3 separate regions of the Homo sapiens genome follow, and regions 1 and 3 are each linked to region 2. Evidence: fine-mapped expression QTL. A gene starts in region 2. Each other region holds a variant in brackets. All regions are shown on one strand. Distances are from middle to middle. Region 1 holds the start of LOC124903140 (a long non-coding RNA gene). Region 2 holds the start of PAN3 (poly(A) specific ribonuclease subunit PAN3). Region 3 overlaps PAN3 (poly(A) specific ribonuclease subunit PAN3).

What was found. PIP is the estimated chance that this variant, and not a neighbour inherited with it, causes the effect.
Region 1: its variant is fine-mapped to the expression of PAN3 in whole blood (TOPMed, PIP above 0.99).
Region 3: its variant is fine-mapped to the expression of PAN3 in whole blood (TOPMed, PIP 0.92).

The regions. Positions count from the first base shown.
Region 1 is chr13:28,280,189-28,291,327 of GRCh38, reverse strand. PAN3 (poly(A) specific ribonuclease subunit PAN3) reads right to left here. Exons shown (of 19, transcript NM_175854.8): 16 at 10,787-10,916; 17 at 9,949-10,013; 18 at 3,206-3,344. It overlaps LOC124903140 (a long non-coding RNA gene), which reads left to right and starts at 3,341. Exons shown (of 2, transcript XR_007063735.1): 1 at 3,341-8,973. RefSeq lists enhancers at 1,273-1,772, 1,773-2,274. The variant T/C (reference allele first, on the strand shown) is at 3,795.
Region 2 is chr13:28,133,162-28,144,300 of GRCh38, reverse strand. PAN3 (poly(A) specific ribonuclease subunit PAN3) reads right to left here and starts at 5,756. Exons shown (of 19, transcript NM_175854.8): 1 at 5,214-5,756. The coding sequence starts at 5,643. PAN3-AS1 (PAN3 antisense RNA 1) reads left to right here and starts at 5,127. Exons shown (of 2, transcript NR_029383.1): 1 at 5,127-5,754; 2 at 5,896-7,458. RefSeq lists an enhancer at 4,715-5,009 and silencers at 5,092-5,491, 5,532-5,611, 5,802-5,911.
Region 3 is chr13:28,291,954-28,303,092 of GRCh38, reverse strand. PAN3 (poly(A) specific ribonuclease subunit PAN3) reads right to left here. Exons shown (of 19, transcript NM_175854.8): 19 at 7,758-10,711. The coding sequence ends at 10,571. FLT1 (fms related receptor tyrosine kinase 1) reads left to right here. Exons shown (of 30, transcript NM_002019.4): 30 at 1-2,747. Among named protein-coding and RNA genes, the nearest start is that of PAN3-AS1, 160 kb to the right of the region's middle. RefSeq lists a silencer at 6,621-6,779. The variant T/C (reference allele first, on the strand shown) is at 6,049.

The sequences.
Region 1 (11,139 bases), 150 kb before region 2:
TAGTCTATCAACTTGTCTTGTTATGGTTTTCACTTTATTTTTGTTATTTTCAATGTACTTTATTTCATTAATTGATACATAATTCATTAAAATATGTTTACAACTCACTGAAGGCTCAAACATTCAAATCATTTACCAGACAATTTCTGTCATTATTTCTACCAAAATAAGCTTATATAAAATCTTAATTTTGTATAATCAATCTGGCCATCCTTCCCTTTTAATTTATCACACTCTTTTCAAACTTAGAATATTGTCACACTTCAGATTTGGGGTATTATTTACTACTAGCTAGTTCATGATGTGAAACAGAATTTTCTTCAAATTTTCAATTATCCTAATATTCATTAAATGATCTTTGATGAATTTAATATTATCCTAATATTCATTAAATGATCTTTGCTTAAGGCAACTGTCCATGGCTTATTCCATATTACCTACTTGTCAATGTTTGTTCTGGTTCTACGTATTTTTAACTACTGGTACTCTGATACTATGCTCTAAAATCTGACAGAATTATTTTCTACATATTGCTCTCAAGAAAAGGTTTTTCCCCTAACATAAATAAAGGGAAAATAAATATATAACTCATACTGAATTAGTTCAATGATACATATAGTCTTGTGCAGTCTTTTTTCTTTTTTTGATACAGAGTTTTGCTCTTGTTGCCCAGGCTGGAGTACAATGGCACAATCTCGGCTCACTGCAACCTCTGCCTCCTGGGGTTCAAATGATTCTCCTGCCTCAGCCTCCGAAGTAGCTGGGATTACAGGCATGTACCACCACGCCCGGCTAATTTTGTATTTTTAGTAGAGATGGGGTTTCTCCACATTGGCCAGGCTGGTCTCAAACTCCCGACCTCAGGTGATCCGTGCACCTGGGCCTCCCAAAGTGCTGGGATTACAGGCGTGAGACACCGAGCCTGGCCAGTTTTGTGCAGTCTTAATGTAGGTTATTGACAATACTCCTTATAGAGTTTTAAGGAAGTTAAAGGAAGGCAAAGTAGTGCTTAAAAACAAACCGTAACATTTTCCCTGAAAGGTTACCACACTGTACATTAATAGTTCTAAATCATGTGCTACAGTAGATATTTTTTCCTCTAGTACTTATAATTTAGGAAAGTTTAGACCAAGAGTCAGTAAATGTTTTCTATAAAGGGTCAGACGGTAAATGTTTTAGGTTTGGCTTATTGTTTATTTTACAACTCTTTAAAAATGTAAAACTATTCGAGGCTCTCACGCTTTAAAAAAATAGGCCATAGAACGGATTTGGCCTGCAGGCCATGGCTTACCAGCTCCTGGTTTATACATAAACCTATACAGAGACTACATTTACTCCTGGAGACCAGTTCTAAACTTCATAATGCCAAGTAATTCATAAGGGAACTGTCTTCTTTCTTTTCTCTGTAAATTTTGTCTTTCCCAATCTTTTCTTTCTTTTTTTTTTGAGACGGAGTCTCGCTCTATCGGCCAGACTGGAGTGCAGTGGCCCAATCTCGGCTCACTGCAAACTCCGCCTCCCGGGTTCACGCCATTCTCCTGTCTCAGCCTCCCGAGTAGCTGGGACTACTGGTGCCTGTCACCATGCCCGGCTAACTTTTTTAATTTTTTAGTAGGGACGGGGTTTCACCGTGTTAGCCAGGATGGTCTCGATCTCCTGACCTCGTGATCCGCCCGCCGTGGCCTCCCAAAGTGCTGGGATTACAGGCGCGAGCTACTGCGCCTAGCCTTTTCCCAACCTTTTCTAAAACATAATGCTGCTGGGCGTGGTGGCTCACGGCTATTATCCCAACACTTTGGGGGTGGGTGGACTGCTTAATCTCAGGAGTTTGGGACCAGCCTGAGCAACATGGTGAAATCCCGTATCGACCAAAAGGACAAAAATTAGCTGGGTGTGGTGGCGTGTGCCTGTGGTCCCAGCTATTCAGGAGACTGAGGTGGGAAGGAGGACCACTGCAGCCCTGGGGAGTCAAGGCTGCAGTGAGCCATAAGTGCGACTGCACTATAGCCTGGGTGACAGATCAAAACCCCGTTCCAAAAAAAAGCTCACCTCACCTCTCAAATAAATTTATGATCTATTTTTTATCTACTTAATTCATCTAATCATCAAATTCACCATTTATAACAGCTGGACCTGCTAGTAACTGATGTCACTAGTATTGTGCTTTTATTATTTACTACTTGATTATAAAACCTAGAGTTAGGCCGGGTGCGGTGGCTCATGCCTGTAATCCCAGCACTTTGGGAGGCTGAGGCGGGTGGATCACGAGGTCAGGAGATCGAGACCATCCTGGCTAACATGGTGAAATCCTGTCTCTACTAAAAATACAAAAAATTAGCCGGGCATGGTGGTGGGTGCCTGTAGTCCCAGCTACTTGGGAGGCTGAGGCAGGAGAATGGCGTGAACCCGGGAGGCGGAGCTTGCAGTGAGCCTAGATGGCGCCACTGCACTCCAGCCTGGGTGACAGAGACTCCGTCTCAAAAAAAAAAAAAAAAAAAATCTATAGTTAATAATGATTTGATAACACCCAACATAACTCACAATGATTCGGAAGGGGTTCAATTTTTAAAAAATAAACACAAAATTATTTTTTTGCTTTTTACCATTCACTGTTTTAAGCGGCATAACAAAACCACATGTAAATAAAACATTGCATAAAGGAGGGAAGCAGTCATTTTGTGATACTTTATCATAATAAAAAGATCCACAATAAAACATTCTAAAATTATTCATGAAGGCCAGGCGCAGTGGCTCACGCCTATAATCCTACCACTTTGGGAGGCTGAGGCAGGCGAATCACTTGAAGTGAGGAGTTCGAGACCAGCCTGGCCAACATGGTGAAACCTTGTCGCTACTAAAGATTAGCTGCGCATGGTGATGGGTGCCTGTAATCCTAGCTACTCGGGAGGCTCAGGCAGGAGAATCACTTGAACCCGGGAGGCAGAGGTTGCAGTGAGCCAAAATCAGGCCACTGCACTCCAGCCTGGGCAACAGAGCAAGACTCTGTCCTCCACTGCCCCAAAAAATTATTCATGCAAGTATTGTAAAAATCCTCCCATTGTAGAAAATGTTATTAATAAAACGTCTTACAGGCTACTTTAAGAGTACATCCTGATTTCTTAAGTTTCCTAGTATTTGTAGAAGATACAACTCTATACAAATTATAGGCAGAATTATGATCTTAAAAAATCTAGATACAAATTACCTTGTTAAGACAAGAAATTATATGACTGAGGTCAATCCAGGGAGCACCTGCTTCTGTCACCTGATGAAAAAGATGATCCCTAAAGAGTTTCAACAGATAACGGTCTCCAGTCTCTGACCAAGTGGGATCCTTCTGAAACCTGGGGGAAATGAACATTTTACCTCAGTAACTCATGCTGTATGGTCTGTGGCCATATGTCTATTTTTTAGACTCCAAACTAGTTTTACTTTTTCCCAATAAACAAAAAATTGGGAGGGAGTCTGGTACAGTGTTTTTAAAAAATAATCTAACTGAACTAGTAAGTCTATGAATTCCAGTTTTCAGTTAGCAAATGTCAGGGGGAAATCATCCCTTATGCATTCCTATTTTACATTACCTCCTTATTTCAGCCCCTACCATTAGATAAAATGGAAAAGGTAAAAATATCTTTAAATATCTTCTCTTCTCTTCCTCCCACTCTGTAGGTTACAGAATAGAGAAAGGTCAGGTACATCTTCTACTTCACCAATAAGCATAAAATAGAAAAATGTTTAGGAAACAAAAAGGAAGTAAATATCGGTTTCCTACCATTCCATGTGAAAACAAGCTG[T/C]GAAGAACCAGATGACCACTGTGAGTTTTCAGTGACCTTAGGAACTTACAGTCTAGTAGGAAACAGACGTTATTCAAATAATCAAAGAAAGCTGTAACTGCATATTTACATAATGCTCCTAAAAGGAATATGATATAAAACGAAGATGAATTTATCTAGGGCCGCGCCTGGCTGATAATCCCTTTTCTGTATCATTTAAAGTCGTTCTGCTTCCCAGATCAAACTGTGATACAATTCCCATTAAGAAAAAATAGGTAAAAACAATGATTACAGAAAATGTATAACATTAAATTTATGTAAAATTATGTGTGAATATAAGTATATAAAGCAATTAAGGAAGGTTTTCCAGAGGAAGTAGTGGCTGCTCTTCCCAGAAGAAGGATGCTCCTTCGTCAGAGATCGGTATTTGCATGGACATTGAAGAAACTTAAGGAAGGTCATGTGTCTGAATGGGTTGGGGGAGAAAAGAGAAGAAAAGACGACAGAATACACGGAGAGGGAGGGTAAGGGCAAGGAAAAGGAACAGAGTGAAGACAAGAACAAAGAATGGGGGATGGGGGGAAGAAAATTAAATAAAAGGCAGATTTGACGCCAGGATGAGAAGTAGGTAGGGATCAGACTACACAGCTTAGGACATGTTTTAAAACTGGGTCTTTATTCTAAGAACCAGAGGAGAAGTTCACCATATGGTTTTAGCACAATCATATATGTATGTTTGCAAAGGTCACTCCAAGGACTTCCAATTAAAATGAAGATTAAACACCCATTTATCTCTGCTCCCTTTCAACAGCCCATCAAATTGACAGTAAATACCTAAAAAAGGGTATAAACACAAGGACAAAGGGATCAGAAAAAGCAACAATAGTGAACAAGAGATAATCATGAACATCTGGAATGCAGAGGCAGATAGGTAAGTGGGATGACTTAGTAGACCTGACAAAACTGAACCCTAATTCTACAAGGGATGTGGGAAGAGGGTGCCCACAGGAATCAAGCAACCCACACTGGCGTAGCTCAGAAACTGAAGCCACAAAGGACTACTAAAAGTGCAAGTTTGGACTGAGGCTGAAAACAGGAGAACTGAGAAAAGGTTCTATAAACAGCAAACAGATAACCCATCTCTCAACCCCACTGCCACCTGTCTGGCAAAAATCTGGAGGTTTTACTTTCTAAAAAGGGTGAAAGAGAGAAGCTTGAGCCTCAGGGATGCCAAGCAAACCAGAAGATGAAGAGCTGAGGAGTGCTGGATGACACCCTATTCAACAAATGCTTTCCCTCTGTGTGGTTCCCAAACCCTGGCTGTCAGGCTTATACCACAGACAGTAGAGGTTGGAAGATTCTTTTCAGGGGATGCTGACCTGTCCAAGACAAATGATAATCCTTGACAGTCTATCAAAAACAAACAAAAATCATGTATAACAACATCACACTGCTTTATCACAGAGAAAGGTTCAACATTCTATAATCCCTGCCCTCACAAAGGCTTCCCATTGGCTTTTTAGGACCTTATTTTTAATACAAATGGACAGCTAAGTATCAGAAATCTTTTGTTACAAAACAAAACAAAATAAAGCAAACTCTTGTTTCCTATGAGATACTGCAGGGAATGGAACAAAACTTAAAACTAAGACAAACAAAAACCAACCACCAGCAAAAATCTATTAACTGACGGCCTCAGAGAAACAAGAATTAGATGGTACAAGACAAACATTCAGAAAACAGAATTGTTCTTGGAAAATAAAAATATGATAGCAGAAATTTAAAAATTCAAAGAATTAGAAAAAAAACTTTAATTTTAGAAAAATGCAGTTGAGATAACTGCCCAGAAAGTAGAACAAAAAAAATTAGAGATAGAAAATAGAAGAGAATATTTGAAAATCAATTGCAAAGGTCTAACATCTGAGCGATGAGAATTCCAGGACAAGAAGTTATTAAAGAAACAATGAAGACCATGTCCCAGAACTGAAGGACGTTAAGTTTCCAAGATTAAAGGGGTTCACCTGTTAATCCATCATTATGACTCAAAACCTACACCAAGGAACATCACTGTGAATTTCTGAACATCAGTGACTAAACAAACAAACAAACAAACAAACAAAACCCAAAAGCTTGGAGGAAGGAAAGGATTTATAAAGAAAATGCCTTTGAATCTGCCTGGAAGTTAAAAGGAACAATGCTTCAAATTCTGAACTATCATCACTAGTACTTACCTATGTACTGAAAGTACCCGCTAACACAACCACTCAAGAGAAATTAAAAGTATAGAAACTGGGAAGGAAACTATCATTATTTGCAGATAACACCTGGGAAACTCAAAGAGAATTTACTGAAAACGACCCAAACAATAAGGTACCAGAGCATAAAATTTAAAGAAATCAAGAATTCTCATATATACCAGTAACAAGAAGACAGAATGGGGGAAATTTTCCCACTTATAATAGCAACAAGATGAAATACCTAAGAATACACTCAGTATTGCTATAACTATATAAAGAACAACTTAAATACTACTGAAGAATACAAAAGTAGACATCAACAAATAGAATGACATACCATGATCTTGGTTACGATGACTCAACATCTAAAATCACAAATGTTCCCAGAGTTTAAACACGATAAATATGCTATCTTCCCTATGAAGAAACCATCAGGTTTATTGATTTTTTTTTAACTAAAGAAGCTGATTCTAGAATTTGTACAGAAAATTTAATAGTATTAGGAAAACAACAAAGTGGTGCCCAATGAAATGGAGATGGGAAAGAATACTGCTAGATTTCAAAATTCAATTTCATGATTGAATTAAAATAGTATGGAAGAGGTGTGGCTTCAAAAACCAGTGGGGAAAAGCTAGATTGTTCGACTATTCAATAAACAGCTTTTGGACTACTAGGTAGTCTTGGGGACAAGGGGAGATGGACTTACACCTTACACCCTATACAATTTCTAACCACATAAAACATTTTTAATATGAAGAAATGAAACCACAAATGTTCTGGAAAAAACCATGAAATAGTTCCTTCATAATCTTGGAGTAGAAAGAGGCTTTCTAACTATGATTCAAAATCCAGAAGCAAAGAAGAAATTTGGTCAGTTACAGACATATACAAATGTCTCCAAGGGTGGGGAATGAGCAGTCAAAAAAAAAAAAAAAATCACAAAAAGAGTGAATCTCTTTAGCTCTTATATATCAATAAGAAAGACAAGCAATCCAATTGAAAATAAAAATGGGCAAAGGATATGAATTGAACAGGACATAAGAATGGATCAATAGCATAAAACAGACCCTCAAACATGCTTGTTAAGAGTACATAGAACATAAAACTGCATTTAAATTCAATTTTTCACCTACAAGGTTGACAAAAATCTAAGAGTTTGAAAAAAGTATTTTGGTGAGGCAGTCTCACGAATTACACACATGGGTAAACTATTCTCCAATAGCTATGAAATTATAGTGGCACACCTACTGACCTAGCAATCACAATTGGCCTATATTTACATATATATAAGATTAAGTATGCACAAGTTAGTCCCTACAGTACCGCCCACCCTAGCAAAGGACTGAAAACAGCCCAAATGCCCACCTATAGGGAACTGGGGAATAAACTATAACACATCCATAGGATAAACTACTACCAGGCCATTAAAGTATGAGGAGACACATAGCATAGTGGTTAGGAGCACACACTCTGGAACCATACTGTCTAGACTGGAGTCCTGGATCATATACTTATTAATTACGCAACCTTTGTTCAAGTTATTTAACCTCTCTATGCTGCAATTACTCTGTTAAATAGGAATAACAATGGTAACTCCATCATAGGGTTGTTATGAGGAATAAGTCAGGTCATATTTGTAAACTATTTTGAATAGTGCTTGGCATATACTAAACATATCTAAATAGAAAGATTTCTAAAACACGCTGTTATGATAAAATATACTGTGTATGGTTTACAATTTTTATATATTTAAAGGGGGAGGGGATAAGAATATATAGTTGTATTTGTAACTCTGGAATAATACAGAAGAAACTAAAAATATAGACTGATGGGGGAAACTGGGAATAGATATTGGGGATGTCAGGTATGAAAGAGAGACTTTTACAGTTTTCACTGCAAACTTTTCCTACTTTTTACTTTATTCATAGACAACCTATTTAAAAAATTTAATTAATAAGAATAATTTCCTGGCTGGGCACAGTGACTCATGCCTGTAATCCTAGCACTTTGGAAGGCTGAGGCAGGTGGATCACCTGAGGTCAGGAGTTCGAGACCAGCTTGGACAACATGGTGAAACCCTGTCTCTACCAAAAATACAAAAATTAGCTGGGCATGGTGGCATGCGCCTGTAATCCCAGCTACACTGGAAGCTGAGGCAGGAGAATCGCTTGATCCTGGGAGGCGAGGGTTGCAGAGAGCCAAGAATGCGCCATTGCACTCCAGCCTGGGGGATAGAGCGAGATTCCCTCTCAAAAAAAAAAAGGAAAAATTTTCTGAGGACAATCTAGAATTTAGTATGCATTCACAGTATCAATAATGTGTGAAAGTAGAATAATGCCATTTTCAAACTTGCAAGACTAAAAAAACTCACCTTTTTCAGGAAGCTACAAGGACATGCTCCATTAAGTCAAAATAAATAAATAAATAAATAAATAAACAAACCAAGGAATAAAGCAAGAAAACAGGGTATCCAACACAGAGAGATAATGAGAATTCCCAGATAATACTGAAGGGAAGTTCCAGTTCTAAAGTGTAAGCACGTGCAGGCTTAAAGCATAACCAGCCCAGATAGGAACAGGAAGTGCAGAGGATCCAGAGCCAATTCTCTAGGTGGGAGGGAAAAAAAGGAACTGATAGGTTACCTATTTTTGACCGCATGGGAGAGGTGTTTTGTAACACTAAATACAGATTCAACTCATGTGTGCATGTGTGTGTGCACGTGCGTGCACGTGTGTAGGGAAGAGGATGAGTCATTAGCTGAATTATATATTGGGGGAATCAAGAATAGAACTATAAGCAGACATTTTAAAGTAAAGAGATAAATGCTAGAAGAAACAGCTAAAAGTTTATTAAAAATGGTTTAACATATATTGTTATGTTCTCTTCACTTAGAAAAATTATTAGGGAAGACACTAAATGAGTCTTTCGACTTTGAAGAAAAGCAAGTGGACTTGAATTCCATGGTAAAAAAAAAAAACAACCCCTCAAGTAATAGTATTTATCTCTCACCTATCTCTATTAACAAATCAAACATTCCTGAAATGTAACTTACGTATATAGTCATAGTAATTGCAAATTCTGTTCTACCTGTCTTTGACAGTTATGTAGTACAAACATCGACTCTGCTTATGTATATATGGTTAACATTAACTTACAAATGAGGTGGAACTAAGTGACAAATAGTGTAAAAGGTAATGCCTTTCCAATGTCACTTATATGATGGCTATAAAAAGTATACTTTAGGCCAGGCGTGGTGGCTCATGCCTGTAATCCCAGCACTTTGGGAGGCCAAGGCAGGTGGATCACCTGAAGTCAGGAGTTCAAGACCAGACCACCCTGGCCAACATGGTGAAACCCTATCTCCACTAAAAATACAAAAATTAGCTGGGTATGGTGGTGCACACCTGTAGTCCCAGCTACTTGGGAGGCTGAAGCAGGAGAATCGCTTGAACCTGGGAGGCAGAGGTTGCAGTCAGCCGAGATTGTGCCACTGCACTCCAGCCTGGCGACAGAGGGAGACTCCGTCTCAAGAAAAAAAAAAAAAAAAAAAAGTGTGCTTTAATAGAAGGTAAGAGGCATGCAAAAATTAGAGATTTCTCAAGTCTCTAAACTGACCAGGGTAAACTTACATGAAACTTCTTCCTCAAAAAGAAGATAGGGTAGAGGTAGTATTAGTCATAAAATGTGCCCTCATGTGCAAACCACAAGAGATTTCTAACACACCATATTTTCTGTGTGTATACATGTGTGTAAAATTCGTAAGGACAGCCACACCTAGGCTGTTGTTAAAAATAGCACCTTAACAGCTAACACAATCTTAAGGTCACTTCACATGAGAATTTTTCTCTTTTTCCAAATAAAGCCAGGCATACTTATTCTTATTATGCAAAATAGTGCTCTCGATTAAAAATATATTGTAAAATACTGTAAATCCTTACTCCGGCCTCTCATTGATTGTTCCCAATTTTGCTAGGAGCCTAAACAGTCTTCCATTTTGAACCTCCTATAAAACATTTTAAAAAGAGAAAAATGTTAATGTTCCAGATAACTGAACATAAAAGCCAAAATTTACAAAAACTGGTAACCTGTACCAATATTACCTTTAAACAATAAATCCTAACATCCCCACCTTTTGGTTATACTTTTAAACAAACACAATATGTCCATTTCATTTCATAATGGTACTCAAGAAGATTATGGAGCTGTCCATAGGAATTGGAAAAGTAACTCACATGAAAAACCAAGATTTTTGTCACATGACTGTAGCAAAGCCATGAATGAAAAGAACAGTGTTGTCCAGAGGACATAAGAAATTAAAATACCAAACATTCAGTGCCGACAAAAATATCTGAAATCTTAGCAAATAAGGCATTATATTTAGTACAATGATTATTTTGTGTCTATTTATATACACAGATGCAAGTTGTGTGTACATTCTTTTAATTACACTCTTTACTGGCCAGGTGCAATGGCTCACGCCTGTAATCCCAGCACTTTGGGAGGCTGAGGCGGGCGGATCACTTGAGCTCAGGAGCTCAAGACCAGCCTGGCCAACATGGTGAAACCCCGTCTCTACTAACAATACAAAAATAGCGGGGTGTGGTGGCGTACACCTGTAATCCCAGCTACTTGGGAGGCTGAGGCAGGAGACTCGCTTGAACCCAGGAGGCAGAGGTTACAGTAAGCCGAGATAGCACCACTGCACTCCAGCCTGGGTGACAAAGCAAGACTCTGTCTCAAAAAAAAAAAAAAAAAAAAAAAATTTACACTCTTTACCTTTGCAAGGTCTTCCTCTATGACATCATTTCTCATTTGAGCAGCATCCAATTGAGTATAAAATCGAGCACCAATCATGGGCATGATGTCATTTACACTTCGCATCCTGTTTTGGTCAGTCAACAAATACCTACCCAAGATAAAAGAGGAATTACTTGGATGTCCAACATGCAATTTAAAAAACAAGATAACCCAAACATAGCTGTTTTGGCTGCCGTCATCTTAGCACACAAAATTTTGAAAACATTTTAATTCATGCAAGTCAAGTTCATTCTTAAATATTACATTTCATTCCTCTGGAAAACTGTAACAGCCAATGGAGAAACAGTAAACATGTCTCTTCTCTACATTTT
Region 2 (11,139 bases):
AGCTCGCAGTGAGCCGAGACTGCGCCACTGCACTCCAGCCTGGGAGACAGAGCGAGACTCCATATCAAAAAAAAAAAAAAAAAAAAAAACAAAAAAACTTATCGAAACCAAGTATTACCTTATAGATATTTATAGCCCCACTAGAATGTAAACTCCATTAGGGCTGAATTATGTTTTTTTGTTGCTGTTGTTGTTCCTATCACCTTAATCAGAGCTTACCACCTTGGAAGCAGGATATTAAATGAGTGAAATGAACAGTATTATAAAGCCTTCATGATATACTAAGTATATTATTCCAATAAAAATGTTTAAACTTATGCCAGCTATCCTAACAGCAAATCGCCAGTACTCACTTCTCTGTCACTTAGTATAGGTTTGTGGGATGAAAAGGCTAGTCTTGGCTTAAACAAAAACAGCTTTGCCACACGCTACACATTACATATTCCAAAGCTAACATTTGAACTTCAAGTTATCCATGGCACTGCTCTCCTCCATTTGGACAATCACAATTCAATAATCTGTAGCTATTTTACTAGTCTTCAATGTATGCCCTCAAAAATTTGAAGAAGGAAATACAGAGGTTAACTATAGATTATTAATATTTAATAATAGCAATAACTAAGACTGAAACCTCAATATGTGCAGGCAATGCCATGCAATTTTCATAACATCTCCATTTTCCAGATGAGAAAAACTGAGGCTTAAAGGTTAAAAATTCGTTCAGTCACAAAGCTAGTCAAAGAGCCAGGATTCTATCTGAAACATGTCTTATTCACTAGTAACTACATTAGGAGAATTGAAAAGTGTATTTTGGTAAATTAAAACTACTGGGTTTCAAATAATGTACATAAAATACAAATATTGGCATATTTTACCTGTTAAAAATTGTACACTTTGAAGATTAAAGCCATTTTGAAAATCTAGCCAGTTGAAAATATTAGAATTACATCATTAAATGTCAAGAATCGATAATGCAGTTGAATACAAATCAAATCACTCTTAAGCCTTAGAAAAATCCCAAGACTAACAGAAATACGAAATGTTACGTAAGCTACATGGTACGGCATACCTGTAGTCCCAGCTACTCAGGAGGCTGAGGTGCTAGGATCACTTGAGCCCAGGAGTTGGAGTCCAACCTAGACAACACAGCAAGAACTCCCAACCCCCTCCTCAAAAAAAACAAAAACAAAAACAAAAACAAAAAATCAAATTGCAGTTTCCTTATAAGGTTGAAACATCATTGCAACTAAGTGTATTAAGAAAAAGCCTTTGTGCTTCAGTTTTCCAATGGCTGCAAAATAAAGATAAAGTTTTCTCATGCACCCACCTCCAAGGTTTTAACACTATCTGAAACACCAACAAAACAAAAACAATTCTGCAAATGTGAAGTGCTAAAGTTAGAGTCAAAACCTCAAATGCCTAGATATAAAAGTCATCCAGTTAGGGAATGAGTCAAAATGGAGAGAATTATGCTCTATCAACAGCTCTAATTCCAACACAGGTAAGAGACATCCTTAAAGGGAAACCAGAAATTTGTACTTCTATATTAAATCTTTTGTTTCTTTTGTTGTCAAATGATTCAATCAAAACCCACAAACATAGAAATTAAAAACACTAAATTATGGTATATATGGTGGCTCACAGGGTAGGCAGATCGCTTTGAGCCCAGAAGTTTGAGACCGGCCTGGGCAACATGGGGAAACCTCATCTCTACCAAAAATACAAAATAATTAGAGGTGCTTGGTAGCCAGTGCCTGTGGTCCCTGTCTCAAAAAAAAAAAAAAAAAAATTGCCATCTATTTTAACTGCCTCACACACATAATTAACCAATGAAGGCCAGATGTGGTAGCTCACACCTATAATCCCAGTACTTTGAGAAGTCAAGGCAGGAGATTGCTAGAGCCCAGGAGTTCGAAACCAGCCTGGACAACACAGCAAGACATCATCTCTTCAAAATAAAATAAACGGATCAATACTGTCTCAAAACACACTGAATGAGAATACAGTAAAAGGTAGAAAGCAGTCTAAAAAATGAACAATAAGTGTAAAAACTCAAAAAAGCCATACAATTACCAACACAACCTTTTTTCCTGATTCCTGAGCAACATTATTTCCCACTCCTTGGTATCTCTCAGTAATACCTAGGTTGTGATTCCTTATGAAGAAATCTCCATCCATAAGGAATTACTGAGAGATACCAAGAAGCCTATCACAGAAAAGAGGAGCCTTAGGCTTCAGCCAGACAAGCTAAAGCAAACACCACAGAATCTAAATACATAAATCAACTATTTAATCAGACAACTTTTACTAACAAGTGACAAAGTATTAATTTTAAAATACCTTTTCAGCATTAACTGCCTGTCCTCTCGAGTCCCTATATCTCAGTTATTTTCCTAAGATGTCCCACCTTTGAGCCACTGCTAATATTTTTTCCTCCACCTTAAGGGTACTTACCTTCCCCTCCCATCTTCATCTGCTTACATCCTGTCCTCTTTCAAGTCTCAGCCCTTCTACCTATTGTGTGTTAATTAGAAAATCCTCGGCCAGGTGCGGTGGCTCCCGCCAGTAATCCCTAGGAGGCCGAGGCAGGCGGATCACCTGAGATCAGGAGTTTGAGACCAGCCTGACCAACATGGAGAAACCCCGTGTCTACTAAAACTACAATATTAGCTGAGCGTGGTGGTGCCTGCCTGTAATCCCAGCTACTAGGGAGTCTGAGGCAGGAGAATCTCTTGAACCCGGGAGGCAGAGGTTGCGGTGAGCCGAGATCACTAGATTGCACTCCAGCCTCGTAAACAAGAGTGAAACTCCGTCTCAAAAAAAAAAAAAAAAAAAAAAGAAAAAAAGAAAAAGAAAATCCTAGAATGATCGTCAGAGCTGTCTGTCAGGAATAAGATTAATAGATAAATAAAACTTTAAAAGTTTTTTTTAAAAAGAGAATCCTAGAAAGATCACCTATGAAGTCTAACACCAGCATTTTAAAAAGTGCCTCTTTCTGGCCAGCACAGTGGCTCACACCTGTAATCCCAGCACTTTGGGAGGCCGAGGCGGGACGATCACCTGAGGTCAGGAGTTCGAGACCCACCTGGCCAACATGGCGAAACCCCGTCTCTACTAAAAATACAAAAATAAGCCGGTCGTGGTGGCGCATGCCTGTAAAACCCAGCTACTTGGGAGGCTGAGGCAGGAGAATTGCTTGAACCTGGGAGGTGGAGGTTGCTGTGAGCCGAGATCGCACCACTGCACTTCAGCCTGGACGACAAGCAAGCCTCCGTCTCAAAAAAAAAAAAAAAAAAAGTGTCTCTTTCTGTCAGTAAGAAAACTATTGTTCAGTGTCATTGGTTACTAATCAAACATTACTACTGAGTCACGACTCACACATCCAGCAAAACTTTAACCTGAAAATGCAAAGTTGATGCTCGAAAGTGATAAAATTCCACCCATAAGTAACCATTTGTTTTACAAAACATCTGAATTTACAAAATTAATTTTCTTAGCATTATCAGCCTTAGCAAATATATCTTCATTAAAGTCAAGCCCATCACAACAAATGAAACACTTCTATAAAAGAAAAAGAAAGAAGAGAGAAAGGAGAAAAGAACAGAACAGAACAACACTTGGCCCAGCATGGTGCCTCACTCCTGTAATCCCAGCACTTTGGGAGGCCCAGGCAGGAAGATCGCTTGAGCCCAGGAGTTCCAGGCCAGCTTGGGCAACATAGGAAGATCCCGTCTCGAAAGAAAAAGCAAGAAAGCAAAACCCCGGGGAAGATATTAAATAATCCTCATAGACCAATTAAATGCTAAAACTTCCTATCAGGTTCATTAACAGTGTTTAAGAAAAAGACAAAATGTTCTCATGTACAAATTGAACTGCCTATCAGATTATTTTAAGATCTAGTTCTCCAGAATTCCCAAGAAAGTAGGACTCCTATTTGGTTTAGAAACGCTCAATATACTAAGAAACAAAACAGGGACATCTGGCACCGGCTCTATTCGTAAAGGCAACATTCTCTAACAGATTACGCTCACATTCAATTGTAAACTCCACTAACAACTAACAAGCTTCAGGTCAATAGATAACAACACACTGAGAGGCTGAGGAGGACAGATCACTTGAGGCCAGCAGTTTGAGACCAGCCTGGCCAACACAACGAGACTACTATCTCAACTAAAACTACAAAAAATTATCTGGCCGTGGTGGCGCGCGCCTGTAGTCCCAGCTACTCCGTAGGCAGAGGCAACAGAATCGCTTGAACTCGGGAGGCGGAGGTTGCAGTGAGCTGAGATCGCGCAACTGCACTCCAGCCTGAGCGACAGGGCGAGACTCTCTCCAAAACAACAACAACAACAACAACAACAACACATGAAAAAGAAATATAAACAGCCTTAAGATGTCCCCACCCAAGTGCTCAGTCGCACATAAACGCAGGCTGCACATGACATGCATTCAAGACACAATGCTGAGTTTGCTTGATACAAAGCTATAGAAGACAGGATCCCAGCTGACACCAGCAAACTTATTCTAGCTTTCAGGGAAACTCAGATGAAATGCGTCTTTGTGAAATCCCTACTCTAAACTCTCGATTAAACCTGAGCACACTTTGAACGCGACAGTCCGCTCCCTCCTAATCCTTAGAAAGCATTTCCTGCCTGCAAAACCTTTCTCCCGCAAGCCTTCTACAAACTTTTTCCGTTCTTTCAACCTACTCCACGAAGCCTTAAGCCCGCCCCTCACCTCCCGCCCCCTACACACACACACACACACACACACACACACACACACAAACACACCCCTCCCCACTAGGGAACCTCAACACTCTGCAGACGCCACTCCACAAGGACACGCAAAACACATGTGCCTGCAAACCCAGCCCCTTTCCACACCCCCCGGAAACGACACCCCCTTTCTCACACTCCGCACGCCACAGCCCATCCCCCTTCCTCCCCGCCCCCCCTTCACATCACCCCAGTCCTCCCACCCACGTTCCCGGGAACCCAACCTCCCCGCGCTCTCCGACTTGCCGAAGGCAGTGGGGAGGGGAAGCAGGAAGAAGGAAGGAGGGCTCAGGCCCGGCCTAGGCCTCTCAGACCGCCTTGGGAGGTGAGGGGGGGAGCCCGCGGGCCGTGCTCAGCTCCCGTCGGCAGCAGGGCCTCATCCGGCCCAGGCCTGCCCTCCGCCGCCGCGGCCCGCCCCGCCCGAAAAACACTCACTTGCCAGCCGCGGTCCATCGAGTCCCCCGCTACTGCCTCCTCCGCCGGCTGCGGCTCCGGTCCCCGGGTCCCCCAGGTCCGGCTTCTTGGGCCCGGGGGGCGGCCCAGCTCCCCCGCCCGCGACGGCTCCCGGCGGAAAGCCGGCCACGGGTGCACCAGCCAGAGCCAGGGGGACGCTGTTGCTATGGAGGCCGAGGCCCGGGGCAGCCCCGGCGGCAGGGTCCTCATGCAGGAACTGACACTCCTCCCCGTAGAAGCAAGTCTTATCCTTAGCGTAGTAGCGGCAGTACTTCAGCTTCACTCCTACCGCCGCCCCGCCGGGGACACCCCCGACCCCCGGCGGGGCCACCACCGCCACCGCCGCCGCCAGCGAGGAGGAGGAAGGGGAGGCGGCGGCCGAGGGGGGCGGGAGGCCGCCGCCACTGTTCATGGCAACGCCGCAGCCTCGTCTTCCGCCGCCGCCCGAGGAGCCGCCGCCGCCACCACCATAGACGGGGGAGGAAAGGAAGACGCTGCCGGTGCCGGATAAAAGCCTGGGCGGGTGGGTCTGTCCCGCTGCGGGAGCCGGAGCCGCCCGGGGAGAAGGGGGAGGGGAGAGGGGAGGGAGGAGGGGGTAGAAGGAGGGAGGGTAGGGGGAGAGTTGGGATTCTCTCACTCACTCTCTCGTTCTCTTTTCTTAAAGGGGCCGCGCGGGACGACGGGGTGAGCGCGCGGGCCCAGACGGGGACTTCGAGGGCGCGGGCAGGGGAAGAGGGAGCGGCAGCGGCAAGCGGGTGGGGAAGGCGGAGGGGCCGGTTTATTTTTAAATTCTGCCTCCACTCGCTCTCTCGCGCTCTGGTTCCTCCGAGTTGTTTATTCCATTTTCCTCTTCCTGAGACGGCCGTCGCCGCTGCGCGTGCGCGCTGAGACGCGAGGGCTTATGGGTAGCGGGAGCGCTAGGGGAAGCCTGGCCGGCGTCGGGCCCCCGGGGGCATCCGCGAGCTATCGGCGGTTGGACCGGCGGCTCTCGGTGGGGTTCCGGACGCGGATCTGGCGCCGAATTCTCACGAGACCTGATACCTTCCTTATTTGTATATTCTCTTACTTAAAAAGCCAGATGTCTTTTTTTTTTTTTTCATTGAAAAGAGAAAATTGACAAGGTAAACGGTCGTTTGGAGGGGCCACCTGGGGACGCGGCCCGAGCCCTGGCTCTACCTGAAGAATATCTTCTATTTGCCACACTTCCTCTCCCCGTTTCCTTTCTTCGCCCCTCTCCTCTTTCCCCTTCCCCTCGAAGGTAATGAGAACTACTGGACCGATTACGCTAACCTCTTGGCCCTTTGTCAAAAAATGGAGCCAAAAAGGTTGATTTAGACAGACCCCCTGCTCAGTGCAGCACCTGTTATTCTCTGTATTTATATTACCAAGGGCCTTCGGTAAATTATGAAAAATAGGATGCCACCTGGGACAACACTGCTTAGACAGCACTGGAAGACCTTTATAAATATACTAGGTTGCTTTTCTCCAATCAGCCTAGCCTTGATTTGAAATTCATTTTTATTTTTTTTGAGACGGTGAAATTCATTTTTAAAAGATAGTTTTAACCTCAGCGATCTCTGATGTTTGCGCTAATACCCTTTTAAAGGCTTTCAGAAATTTTAAAGAATTGCTATGAAAGGAAAAGTAACATTCTAGTTTTTCTCTGTAAAAGAGGTTCACAAACGGCAGATCGCTGTTATGAAAAGGAGGGGTGGAAGTATTTAAGGAATTGTGGCAAACAAAGTCACAGAAGAATGGATATAAGCAAAAGTAGCACACTGAAAAAAATGGGGAAAAGTGGAGTCTAGATCACAAACTGGTAAGCTTGGTGATGTTCTCTAGCCAAATTCGAAGGTAATAACATTGTATTATGGCTTTCTGTTTAAAAGCAGTTTCGCTTATTTGATTATTCAACAAATCTTTATTAACACGCATTACGTGTACCAGAAACTGTGGTACACTTAACTGTGGAGCTGGGGAAGCAAAAGTGAACATGCCGCCTTAAGTGAGTTCAGATGGCTTATCTTCCGGTTGGGGAGGCATCAAGTACACAGGTCCGTTGTAAACCAGTGTCTTAAGTGCTAACCTTATCACATTTGCTATTAGAGGATATTAAACATGTCAGACTTCTTGGAGAAAGTTGATATTTTCATGTTCCAAGTTTGGGAACATCATTGAATTCAGACAGATCTGGATTGAAACAGATTAAAGTGCCTACACTTTAATAGCTGTGTTCCTCTCAGTTAATTGCTTCATTTCTCTGTGCCTTGTCTGTACACCTGGATTAAGAATAGTACCTACTTCATAAAGTATAACTAATAATGTATATAAACTGTCCCATGCCTAATAAGAATTCGGTAGGTTGTAACTATTATTAATAGTATTGGCCAGGCGCAGTGGCTCACGCCTGTAATCCCAGCACTTTGGGAGGCCAAGGCGGGTGGATCACCTGAGATCAGGAGTTCGAGACCAGTCTGGCCAACCTGGTAAAACACCGTCTCTACAAAAATACAAAAAAATTACTGGGCGTGGTGGCGAGCGCCTGTGATCCCAGCTACTGGGGAGGCTGAGACATAAGAATCACTTGAACCTGGGAAGCAGAGGTTGCAGTGAGCCGAGATCTCGTCATTGCACGCCAGCCTGGGCGACAGAGCGAGACTCCATCTCGAAAAAAAAGTAGTATTGCTGCTAGTGGTAGTCAGTGTATAGTCAAAGAGCATTCTAGGCAAACAGCTTTTATTGTTAGAATACAGTGATAGTGGAAAATGGAGCAGAGTCCACAAAAGTCCTTGTAGGGCCATGTTAAAGAATTGAACTTTTGGCCAGGCGCAGTGGCTCACGCCTGTAATCCCAGCACTTTGGGAGGCTGAGGCGAGCAGATCACGAGGTCAGGAGTTCAAGACCAGCCTGGCCAACATGGTGAAACCCCCGTCTCTGCTAAAAATACAAAAATTAGCTGGGTGTGGTAGCAGGCACCTGTAATCTCACCTACTCGGGAGGCTGAGACAGAAGAATTGCTTGAACCCGGGAGGCAGAGGTTGCAGTGAGATCGCACCACTGCACTCTAGCCTGGGCGACAGAGCAAGGCTCCATCTCAAAAAAAAAAAAAAGAATTGAACTTTTTCTTGAGGACAATTGGAAGTTATTACAGGGTTTTTAAAAGTCAACATGGCAGGGCACAGTGGCTCACACCTCTAACCTCACTGCTTTGGAAGGAAGCCAAGGCAAGAGGATCACTTGAGGCCGGGAGTTCAAGACCCTCTTGGGAAAACTAGCAAGACCCTGTCTATACAAAACAATTTAAAAATTAGCCAGGTGTAGAGGCACTTGCCTATAGTCCTAGCTACTGGGGAGGCTGAGGCAGAGGATCATTTGGGCTCAGGAGTTCCAGGATGCAGTGAGCTTTGAAGGCGCCATTTTATGCCAACCTGCACAGCAGTGAGACCCTCTCGGTCAATAAATAAAAAATAAACTTATTTGCCACACATTTCATATCTCCACACTTTTTTAGGAGACAACTACTTATTCCTATAGTAGGGTTGTCTTTTTAAGCAGGGTTCATTGTTGAGTATTCCTTTACTAAAAATAAATATGTAGTCAACTCTAAGTTATTTTCATGTTAATGAAGATTACATCCAAAACTGCAAATAATCCATAAATTATTCATAAAATGTATACTTGACCTCCAACAGCATTTCCCCAGCAACAGAGACTACATTGCTAAAGGGTAATGTTAATTTCTATTAAATGCTAATAATTGAGGCCAAGCGCATTGGCTCACACCTGTAATCCTAGCACTTTGGGAGGCGGAAGTGGGTGGATCACTTGAGGTAAGGAGTTTGAGACCAGCCTGACCAACGTGGTGAAACCCCGTCTCTACCAAAAATACAGAAAATTAGCTAGGCATGGTGGCAGGCACCTGTAATCCCAGCTTCTCGGGAGGCTGAGGCAGGAGAATTGCTTGAACCTGGGAGGCGGAGGTTACAGTGAGCCGAGATTGCGCCATTGCATTCCAGCCTGGGCAACAGAGCGAGACTTCATCTCAAAATTAATAATAATAAAGATTGAGAGGAAAACGTCACATTTTCTGAATGGTTAATTATTATATTAGTGATAGCAGCCTGAGTCTTAAAAATTCTCCCTTAAGGACAAGCATGTGGCTCACACTTATAATCCTAACACTTTAGGAGGTCAAGGCAGGAGAATCACTTGGCTCAGAAGTTCTGAGACCAGCCTAGGCAACATAGGGAAACACTGTCTCTACAAAAAAATTTAGCTGGGCATGGTGGCATTCTGTGGTCACAGCTACTTGGGAGGCTTAGGTGGGAGGATTGCTTGGGCCAGGAGGTCGAGGCTGCAGTGACAGCCTAGGTGACAGCAACCCTGGTGTCACCTGGTGAAAAAAAGGTGACCCTGTCTCAAAAAAAAATAAAAATTATCCCTTAAGATAGAGTGGAAACTGCATGTGGATAAATGAGAGTTGACTGTTTTTGAGTCCTAGAAATGAAATTTGCTGCATATGTATAAATACATTTCTTACATATTTGTAAAGTATGTTCCTTATGCACTAAGCTCTATAATTTTATACAAAGTTACTAGCAACTGCTTAATTTAATCTTGTTGACAAATTTTGGGTGCACTAGAAGCAAAAACCTTCCTATTTGTGGCAGTGATAAATAACTGATACATGACAGATTTTTTGGCCAGGCGCAGTGACCCACGCCTGTAATCCCAGCATTTTGGGAGTCCAAGGTAGGCGAATCACTTGAGGCCAGGGTTCCAGAACAGCCAGGCCAACATGGTGAAACCCCATCTCTACTAAAAATACAAAAGTTAGCCAGACGTGGTGGTGCAAGTGCCTGGTGCAAGTGCCTATAATCCCAGCTACTCGGGAGGCTGAGGCACGAGAATCACTTGAACCTGGGAGGCAGAGGTTGCAGTGAGCCAAGATCGTGCTACTGCACTCCAGCCTGGGTGACAGAGCAAGACTACGTCTCAAAAAAAAGATTTTTTAATGTATCTATGACCCTTTATAGAAGACATAGTCTTTCATCATTATCATCATACTTATGTACTGATATATACTACATAGGTTTTTTTAGTGTTTATGGCAGTAAAAGCAATTTGTTACCTTTCTATACAAGTTTTCAAAGGATTTCAAGATGCTCATATTTATTATATTCTTGTGAAATACATTAAAGGCAAATATGATTTTGAAATTAATTATATCTTGGAAATGGCCCTGACAATCTAGTATATCATTGGTATCATCCCATACAACTACCACCAGCCATATAGAAGTACCTTTAACTTAGCAAAACTCACTATTACCACTTCTGTTGGTTAAGCACCCCCTACTCCAGAAACTAATATTTGTATGTGAAATATGACCATTATAATCTTAAATCGGATAATTCTCTATTAATAATTGATTTTACTATTTCAAAGACTATGTTTATTTCAGTTTAGATTTTCTAATTTATACTTGGATGAAAAACTTTAAATCAGGAGACTTGCTGAAAAAGATATGTATTAAAGCAAGAATTTTTTTTTTCTTTTTTTTGAGACGGAGTCTCACTCTGTCGCCCAGGCTAGAGTGCAGTGGCGCAATCTCGGCTCACTGCAAGCTCCACCTCCCGGGTTCACGCCATTCTCCTGCCTCAGCCTCCTGAGTAGCTGGGATTACAGGCATGCGCCACCACCCCCAGCTAATTTTGTATTTTTAGTAGAGACGGGGTTTCTCCATGTTGGCCAGGCTGGTCTCAAACTCCTGACCTCAGGTGATCCACCCGCCTTGGCCTCCCAAAGTGCTGGGATTACAGGCATGAGCCACCGCTCCCGGCCAGAATTTTTTTTCTTAATCTTTACAACTTTTCTGTAAAAAGCAAGAATCTTAATAAGATATACT
Region 3 (11,139 bases), 160 kb before region 2:
ATGCATATATAAGTTTACACCTTTATCTTTCCATGGGAGCCAGCTGCTTTTTGTGATTTTTTTAATAGTGCTTTTTTTTTTTTGACTAACAAGAATGTAACTCCAGATAGAGAAATAGTGACAAGTGAAGAACACTACTGCTAAATCCTCATGTTACTCAGTGTTAGAGAAATCCTTCCTAAACCCAATGACTTCCCTGCTCCAACCCCCGCCACCTCAGGGCACGCAGGACCAGTTTGATTGAGGAGCTGCACTGATCACCCAATGCATCACGTACCCCACTGGGCCAGCCCTGCAGCCCAAAACCCAGGGCAACAAGCCCGTTAGCCCCAGGGATCACTGGCTGGCCTGAGCAACATCTCGGGAGTCCTCTAGCAGGCCTAAGACATGTGAGGAGGAAAAGGAAAAAAAGCAAAAAGCAAGGGAGAAAAGAGAAACCGGGAGAAGGCATGAGAAAGAATTTGAGACGCACCATGTGGGCACGGAGGGGGACGGGGCTCAGCAATGCCATTTCAGTGGCTTCCCAGCTCTGACCCTTCTACATTTGAGGGCCCAGCCAGGAGCAGATGGACAGCGATGAGGGGACATTTTCTGGATTCTGGGAGGCAAGAAAAGGACAAATATCTTTTTTGGAACTAAAGCAAATTTTAGAACTTTACCTATGGAAGTGGTTCTATGTCCATTCTCATTCGTGGCATGTTTTGATTTGTAGCACTGAGGGTGGCACTCAACTCTGAGCCCATACTTTTGGCTCCTCTAGTAAGATGCACTGAAAACTTAGCCAGAGTTAGGTTGTCTCCAGGCCATGATGGCCTTACACTGAAAATGTCACATTCTATTTTGGGTATTAATATATAGTCCAGACACTTAACTCAATTTCTTGGTATTATTCTGTTTTGCACAGTTAGTTGTGAAAGAAAGCTGAGAAGAATGAAAATGCAGTCCTGAGGAGAGGAGTTTTCTCCATATCAAAACGAGGGCTGATGGAGGAAAAAGGTCAATAAGGTCAAGGGAAAACCCCGTCTCTATACCAACCAAACCAATTCACCAACACAGTTGGGACCCAAAACACAGGAAGTCAGTCACGTTTCCTTTTCATTTAATGGGGATTCCACTATCTCACACTAATCTGAAAGGATGTGGAAGAGCATTAGCTGGCGCATATTAAGCACTTTAAGCTCCTTGAGTAAAAAGGTGGTATGTAATTTATGCAAGGTATTTCTCCAGTTGGGACTCAGGATATTAGTTAATGAGCCATCACTAGAAGAAAAGCCCATTTTCAACTGCTTTGAAACTTGCCTGGGGTCTGAGCATGATGGGAATAGGGAGACAGGGTAGGAAAGGGCGCCTACTCTTCAGGGTCTAAAGATCAAGTGGGCCTTGGATCGCTAAGCTGGCTCTGTTTGATGCTATTTATGCAAGTTAGGGTCTATGTATTTATGATGTCTGCACCTTCTGCAGCCAGTCAGAAGCTGGAGAGGCAACAGTGGATTGCTGCTTCTTGGGGAGAAGAGTATGCTTCCTTTTATCCATGTAATTTAACTGTAGAACCTGAGCTCTAAGTAACCGAAGAATGTATGCCTCTGTTCTTATGTGCCACATCCTTGTTTAAAGGCTCTCTGTATGAAGAGATGGGACCGTCATCAGCACATTCCCTAGTGAGCCTACTGGCTCCTGGCAGCGGCTTTTGTGGAAGACTCACTAGCCAGAAGAGAGGAGTGGGACAGTCCTCTCCACCAAGATCTAAATCCAAACAAAAGCAGGCTAGAGCCAGAAGAGAGGACAAATCTTTGTTCTTCCTCTTCTTTACATACGCAAACCACCTGTGACAGCTGGCAATTTTATAAATCAGGTAACTGGAAGGAGGTTAAACACAGAAAAAAGAAGACCTCAGTCAATTCTCTACTTTTTTTTTTTTTTCCAAATCAGATAATAGCCCAGCAAATAGTGATAACAAATAAAACCTTAGCTATTCATGTCTTGATTTCAATAATTAATTCTTAATCATTAAGAGACCATAATAAATACTCCTTTTCAAGAGAAAAGCAAAACCATTAGAATTGTTACTCAGCTCCTTCAAACTCAGGTTTGTAGCATACATGAGTCCATCCATCAGTCAAAGAATGGTTCCATCTGGAGTCTTAATGTAGAAAGAAAAATGGAGACTTGTAATAATGAGCTAGTTACAAAGTGCTTGTTCATTAAAATAGCACTGAAAATTGAAACATGAATTAACTGATAATATTCCAATCATTTGCCATTTATGACAAAAATGGTTGGCACTAACAAAGAACGAGCACTTCCTTTCAGAGTTTCTGAGATAATGTACGTGGAACAGTCTGGGTGGAATGGGGCTGAAACCATGTGCAAGTCTGTGTCTTGTCAGTCCAAGAAGTGACACCGAGATGTTAATTTTAGGGACCCGTGCCTTGTTTCCTAGCCCACAAGAATGCAAACATCAAACAGATACTCGCTAGCCTCATTTAAATTGATTAAAGGAGGAGTGCATCTTTGGCCGACAGTGGTGTAACTGTATGTGTGTGTGTGTGTGTGTGTGTGTGTGTGTGTGTGGGTGTATGTGTGTTTTGTGCATAACTATTTAAGGAAACTGGAATTTTAAAGTTACTTTTATACAAACCAAGAATATATGCTACAGATATAAGACAGACATGGTTTGGTCCTATATTTCTAGTCATGATGAATGTATTTTGTATACCATCTTCATATAATAAACTTCCAAAAACACATATATTTTCTCCCTGATTTGCTTGTTAAGTGTAAAAAAGAGGTCACAGGTGTCCCTGGGGGTGGAGGACTAGTGCTCTTTATTAAACACAGCACAAGAAAGATAAAGCAAATGCTGCTGAAGAGAGGGCAAAGAGGTTTCTATCGGTCCTAGAAAATGGCTGTGCTAAACAATCAGAACACTGCAACCAGTAAGTAAAAAACAAAATCAAACTAGGCAGATTGCCCAGAAAACTAAACCCTAACATCAACAGGATCATGAAACAAGTAAAGCATATGCTGGGTGTGAGTGCCAGCCGCAGAGAAAAGTGCCCTCAATTAAAAAGAGGCAGTTGTCCCCAAACACTAATTTTCAGCTGATAAATAATTAGCATAATCACAGAGGGTGTGTACACATGCTGCAGAAAACCACACAAAATAATAGGCAAAAGCTTGAAACCCAAGAATGTAAAAGTACACATGCCAGCTCTGTATTCTTCAATCTTGTTTTGTGGATTATGTCCTAGGAAAACAACTCAGGTCACTAAGTACTAGAAATTGAATAAGTGACCAACACTTTGTCTTAGAAATTGGTCATAGTATTACCCGCCTAATATCATCATAAGGAAACTAGATTGGAAAGATATTTTAAGGGGAAAAAATAGGCCTACTTTCTTTGGGACAAAGACAATAAAAATGGATAAATGACAAATCTCAGTACACTTTTAGTTAACTCAAGAGGGCAAGAGGCATTTTGTCTTCAAGAATCTGAAATCCTTTAAAAAGTATTATGGGTTTCATAACATAAGAATAAAATCATTCATTCAGGCAAATGACTTGAAGAATGCTTGAGGAATCAATGTCACGTCAGTTTAGAAATGTTCTCATGGCTCTGGAAACTTATAGTACATTTGGGAATTAATTTTTATTCTTTCCTCCAGCAGAAGTATGGCCTAGTAAGGTTTATTGGACTCCTCAGTGTTAAACATATTACCAGACTTTTGGGTTTCACAGGCCAGGAAATTAAAAAAAAAAATCCTTGATCCCAACACAGGGATGGCCATTCTTCTATTCTGCGAGCTAAGAACACTTGAGGGAGGGGGAAAAAAAAAACCCAAAATCCAACCAGATGCTACTAATGTTCTATTTCCTGATCCGGGTGGTAGTGCATAGGTATGCTCACCTTATGATGAGTCACTGAGCTGCACACTTACTTGTGAATGTGTGTGTATATATATGAATGTATGTACACAATTCTTCAATGCAATATTACTAAAAGAAGAAAAAAACCCCTGCCATTTAGTACCACTACTTTTCATAGGAGAAAACCCATTTTAAAAGGTGGAAGGGCTTAATCTCAGACTAAAATATATTTGTTTTGAAACATACCTATATTATCCTTCTTTTTCCCATTTTCATTTGTACTAGAATAAACTAATGAACACATGTTGTTCCACAGATTGGTATTTGGGAAGCAGTGATAGCTAGTAATTGCTATCATTGCTATCATTTGAGTACCCAATATGTGCCAGCAACTATTTAAAGTGCTTTAAAGGAACACACTTATTTTCAAGGCAATCTAACATGATAGGTACTATTAGTATATCCTTTACTTCAATGGGAAAATTAAAGAACTCCAAGACCCCACTTGTCACATCTCCCCACCTCCAAGCTTATGTCCCCATATACTGTGCTTGCCCTTCTAGACAGCCAACCCAAAACACACTGGTGTCCCTCTGAGACTTGAATTGCTTTAGCAATTCTCCACCGCCCCCCACCATCAATTTTCCCCTTTTCCACTGGAACATACATGTTATTTCTCCCATCTTACAAAATTTTCATCTGTACTTTCTCCTCCAGCTACCACCCAATTTCTCTATTTCCCTTTACAGCAAAATCCCATGAGCGAGTTGGTTATTAGTTATTATTACTTGTTTCCAACTCCTCTCCTCCCACTCACTCTTAAACCCACTCAAGCCTAGCTTTCACGATCACTCACTGAAACTGCTTTTGCTAAGGTCACCAGTGACTCCATATTGATAAATCCAATGGCTAACTCTCAGTCCCATTCTTATTTGACACTTCAGCAGCTTGACACTTATTCGCAAAAACAACTTCAGTTTGGTTCCAGGACATGATACTTTCTTCTTCCCATCTCATAGGCTACCTGTCTCTTTTGCTGGTTTTACCTCTTTTCCCTGACTTTTGAACATTGCTCTAGTTACCCCAGGGCTTGCCCTTGAAGCTTTCTTTTCTCAGTCTATACCAACTTCCTTCATGATCTCAACCAATCTCAGGGCTTTCAATGACACCCATATGATGACTTTCATGGACAGAAGAGATTCTTCCTGCCCGCTGCAACACTCTAAACTCATATATACACAAGTGCTAACCTGACATCTCCCCTTGATGCTCTAGCAGACTGTATTTTTTTCAAATACAGGTGTATTTTTCAAAGATATTGTACTGTATTTTTCAAAAATATTCTATTTTTCAAAGACAGCTGCAAGATTATCTCCCATCTCACACGACCTTTGGCACACGACCTTTGGCAATGTCCCCTCCCCTAGAATCAGAGCTAGCTTTAGGACTCACTTGTGATCAATGCAATGTGAAAGAAGGGACACTGCATGGCTTGGAGGCCAGGTCAGAAAAGATCATGCACTTCCTGAGTCTTGGTACACTCACTCTTCAACAGTTCCCGCCAGGGACCCAGCAGCCATACTTGGAGAAACCTAAGCCACATGGAGGCCATGTGAAGGTGCTCCCATAGACAGCAGCCAGCTGAGTCCAGCCCGCAAGTCACTCCAGCCCCCATCCATTGGAATTTCCCAGCGGAGGCCCAATCACAATGGCATAGAGACAAGCCTCCCTGCTGTGTCTTGCCCAGATTCCTGACCCACAGAATCCTTGAATGTAATAAAATGCTTGTTTTATGCCATTAAGGGTGGAGTTGTTACAAAGCAAATAACCAGAACAAATGTGTACTAAACATCTCAAACTTAATGGGCCTTAGACCAAACTCCCAAATTGTCTTTTCCTGTTTCTCCATCCTCCCCTGCCCTGTAGACTCTTTGTTCTTACAACAGTCTCTTCCAATTCAGCAGAATCCTCTATCCTGTGAGCATCAAGCCAAAGGAAATATTTTTTGAGACAGGGTCTTACTTTGTCGCTCAGGCTGGAGTGCAATGGCTCCATCTCGGTGCACTGCAGCCTTGACCTCCTGGGCTCAATCAATCCTCCCACCTCAGCCCCCTGAGTAGCTGGGGCTACAGGTGCGTGACACCATGCCTGGCTGATTTTACTTTTTGTAGAGACAAGGTC[T/C]CACTATGTTGCCCAGGCCTGTCTCAAAACTCTGGGCTCCGGTGATCTGCGCACCTTGGCCTCCCAAGTGTCGGGATTACAGGCATGAACCACTGCACCTGGCCAGCAAGCCAAAATCTTAAGAGTCATTCCTGACTTCTCTCTTCTTTGTCCGCATCCAGTGAATCAGGACATCCCTGATGGCTCTACCTTTAAAACCTTATTTGAAGTCCAGCCACTCTGCACCACCTCTACTGCTACCACCCTAGTCCAGGTGTTTTTTTTTTTTTTTTTTTTTTGACAGTCTCGCTCTTGTCAGACCAGCTCTGTTGGCCAGGCTGGTCTTGGAACTCCTGACTTCAGGTGATCCACTTGCCTCGGCCTCCCAAAGTGCCGGGGTTACAGCTGTGAGACACCGTGCTCAGTCGCAGGTGGGTTTTAAAACTCAAAGATGGCTGGGCGCTTTGGCTCATGCCTGTAATCCCAGCACTTTCAGAGGCCAAGACAGGCAGATCACCTGAGGTCAGGAGTTTGAGACCAGCCTGGCCAACATGGTGAAACCCCGTATCTACAAAAAATATAAAAATTAGCCAGGTATGGTGACGGATGCCTGTAATCCCAGCTACTCGGGAGGCTGAGGCAGGAGAATCGCTTGAACCCAGGAGGCAGAGGTTGCAGTGAGCCAAGATCGTGCCACTGCACTCCAGCCTGGACGATGGAGTGAGACTCCGTCTCAAACAAAACAAAAAAACCCAACAAAACTCAAAAGACATGGGTTTTAAAATCCAACATCCTTCACTTGGGATGCTGTCAGTTTCCCACCATGTCAACAGCTCACTTCCTCCCTCAGTCTGTTCACGTCGTAGCCAGAGTGATCCTTTTTAAATGTCTTATCATGTTACTCTTCTGCTGAAAATCCTCCTGCAGCTTCCTTTTTCTTTTGAGACAGAGTCTTGCTCTGATGCTCAGGCTGGAGTACAGTGGTGCGATCTAGGCTCACTGCAAGCTCTGCCTCCTGGGTTCACGCCATTCTCCTTCCTCAGCCTCCCGAGTAGCTGGGACTACAGGCGCCTGCCACCACGCCTGGATAATTTTTTTATTTTTGATAGAGAGGGGGTTTCAACATGTTAGCCAGGATGGTCTCGATCTCCTGACCTCGTGATCTGCCCACCTCAGCCTCCCAAAGTGCTGGGATTACAGGCGTGAGCCACTGCGCCCGGCACGGCTTCCTCTTTTGAGGGTAAAAGCCAAAATACTTAAAATGGTCCACAGGACACACCCCTTCCCTATAGACCTTTCTGACGTCACTTCCTACTTAACTTGGCTCTAGCCACATTCGCTCCCCTGCTGTTCCGCAAAGGCTCTGAAACATTCCCTTACCTGGAATACTTTACCACCAGACATACACATGGCAGACCCCTTATGCTTTCTCGTGAGTAGTCTTCTCTCCTAAACTACATTGTTAGTCATGTATTGTATTAAGATGTTTGGGTATAACTATACATTCTGTAAATACCAAGTCCCTGTATCTGTCTTAGTGCCTAGAACAGATCCAAGGACACAGTAGATAAGACTTAAGGACTACCTGATAAATTAATGAATAAATCTGCTGCCATTTCATCCAAATACAAAAATTCCTCCAAAATACAGAGGAAATAACCAATCTTTTAAAATCCAATCATAAGATAATCATCATCTTGTTATATGAACACGTGCAAGAAAAGGACAAATTTATCTCTGTAATTCTTTATTAAAAATACTGCTGTACACATAGAGACTGAAAACAGGATTAAAGATGAATAACACAAATTGGGTCATGACATTAGAACCTAACACACTGGTGCTTTTTAGGGAAGTTGTTGACATCCAAATCACAGAACCAAGGTCAAAAGCAAAATACAAAGGTACCCTCAAAAATATTTACAATGAAGTAAATACACTAACAGAATTTAAAACAGGTACAAAATATTGAAATGACCAACGTTACATGATTTCAAGGGTTGTCCTTTCTGTGCTTTTATCTGTCACGACAGGAAGGTGTGGAAAGTTTATATCCTTAATTTGACTACTCTTGGATATTAAAATCTTTCTATTAATTAAAAAGACTTTTAGACAACCTCTTAAATGGAATTACACTATGGAAAACAGGGCTCCCCCAAAAACACCTAGGCAGAACTGAGAGTTCTTTGAAAACCATTCCCAATAAAAACTAAATGAAAAATAAATATAAAACAAAGCTTAAAAAAATATGCATTACCTGACACCAACCTTTTCTGGCTGACAATATTTATTCATGAAAACATATCAGCTGTCTACCTTTTATATGCAAACCAAGTCCTGAGGTTAACTAGGGGCTGAAGCAAACTAGCATTTAGGATGCAAACATTCTTGGATTTGTGATGTAAACTTGCCTTGCACAGGGAAGTTTGCTGGTCTATACAGAATGAGAAATTCAAGCCCTATTTTAACCCCTGCCCTCTTTAGCTTTCACAAAACATTGGTCCACAAATTAAATTTTCAAAAAGTTCCCAGACCCCAAAACTAAAATAGATGATCCCCTTTCATTTTCAAAGAAAACAATATTGGAAAAAATCTCCAGCCCGCTTATAAATTAAGCATTTCATATTTCTTCTAGAATACAAGTAGTTCTTTTTTGTACAAAAGAATACAATATGATTTGTCAAAAAACATATAAAAAGACAGCTGCTCTTCCTCAAATACATGAGCTAATGATAAAAGACTTTTTCATGTTAATGTCTCCAAGTTCTTCTTTTTACATAAAAAAGAACATTATGGTGGCAAATGTGAATTATCCTTTTAATATTGAACATTATATTCTTTTAAAATCCATCCAGATCAAATGCAATAATTTTCTTTTTAACTCAACAACTGATGCTACCAAACGTGGACTCAATATACTTGTTAAAACGTGTAAAGCGTGTCTCTAGTCTTCAAAGCTTTCAGGTGAAGAGAGGTGCTTTTTCTTGATGCAAATCTCAAGGCAGAGAAAATCATTTTAAAGCTTATAAAAAGTGGACAGAGAAATATTAAAAACTTCTCTGAAATATACAAATATGTGTAATTATTAAAATTGAAGACAGTAACATCAGTTGCAAGTGCTTGGAAGTCTGTCCTGACCTTTTGAGTTTCCACATTTTCTTCAGTTGCATGGTGAGCACCCAGTGCTAGTAAAACATTCAGTGCTGGGAAAGGAGATATAGTCTTCATTACTGTTTTTTAAGAAAGAAAATTCCTATGTATTTGGCAGTCTTCAGTATCAAAGTATAGGTATTTCATTTACTAGAAATTCCATGAATACCCAAGTTTGGCGACAACTGCATGTCCAAATATTAAGAAAGTTAAGAGGAGGAAAATCCCAAACTTTTGAGATGGACTTATTCAGGAATATCGCACAGAGTGAGTTATTATCAAAAGTACTATTACTTTGGGCTAAGCAGTGACTGCAAAGGCACAGCAGATCGTTATCCCTCCAAATTCAGGCTGTAAAACATCAGAAAGCTCTTGATACCAGACCACTGCTGAGTTTAGTTCATCTTCTGAACAGTGTCTCTGTGTCTGTCTCCAGTGTAAAGGACCATAATAAAGCTGTGGTTCAAAGAGCAAAACTTCATAAACCTCCCCCCCGCCCAAAAAAAAAAAAAAAAAAAAAAAAAAAAACCAGCAAACTGGAAAGAACCTAAAGTAATACACTCCTGAACTTTAGGCCTTTAACACAATTTCTTAATTTTCTCCTATTTAAAAAATTTGCATAAATGTAAATGTATCTGACTAGCAGGCAAATGTCTTTTTAAAAAGGCTCTAGTTGAATTTGAAGGAAAGAGCTATACATGCTCCTTCAGTTACTGTTTATCTGATCTTTATTCAGAAAGGATTTAAATCAACTAACAGGGAATTCATATCCAACAATTCACTGGTATTTTCTTGGTATGTTCTTAAGAACAAAACAAAACAAAAATCTCAATTTGAACTAACAGTGGGTGGCATACAGAGAGCTTGCATACGATACTCTTACAAGAATTACGTACTATACTGAACTTCTATGAAATTATTTACCTGGTCCGTAATGTTATTCAGGGCAACCCATCCCAAAAAGAGCAAATTCTGCAACCCTCAATGGCAAAAACGCTGCCCAGCATTGCTTCCCAAAAATGTCCTTGCAAAGTTTCCCATTATAAGTATACAATGTGGCAAAAGTTCAAAGATCAGAAAAAGTCTTTAAAAAATTAAAATTAGTGCATATACAAGTGGAAAAAACAAAAGCAGGAACATCATTCACCTGATGGTGCTCCTAAATCTAAAATAAATTCTTCACAGATAACAGCCTCCAATGGCAGCCATAGCTCTTGGGTAAGTGAAACATTCTTCCTTTCAAGTAACAGTGTACCTGACTGAAGTGCAAGCAGCTTTGCTCATCTCCTGTTCGTTTCCCAAATGTGAATGAGATGATGAAAAGTTCAGCTGTAGTGCAATTTGCTATTGGTTAAGGTCTTTAGCCATGTCCTGCGTGCTTTTTTAGCAAATACTACAACTGACCATTTGCAGCTGCAATCAGTTCTTGAAAAGTATTTTCAAAGCAGCGCTTTAAGTCACTGTAGGTCACCACAAGTACACTCTTCTCATCTCTGGAAATCAGGCTTATTTTTTCTGGCACACCAGCATCTAGCTGAAACAATATATACACAAAATATGAAATTCATAACATGCAGAAAAGAATTTATCTACGTTTGCAGCAAAAATAAATAAAATATCTAAATTTTTTTTGTCACATTCCCTTTCAGATATCCATGAGTACATTTATATCATTCATCAGTATGCACATAATTTTCGACTCAGACATTTTTACACAAACACTGCCCTATGTTTCTATCCCTTCACGCTTAACGTTTGTTTGTATTATAGTTTACCCAGTTGATGCTCCATAATTTTTCTCCCAGTATCTTCCATTTTTGGCATAATAAATTACAGTGCAATGAACATACTCATCTACTTAATTTTTTTCTTCTGTGGGAAGTACTTTTTCCTTAGGAAAAATACTTAGAAGTATAAATATTAATAATAAAATGTAAAGTATTAAGAAATTGGTTTTTAAAA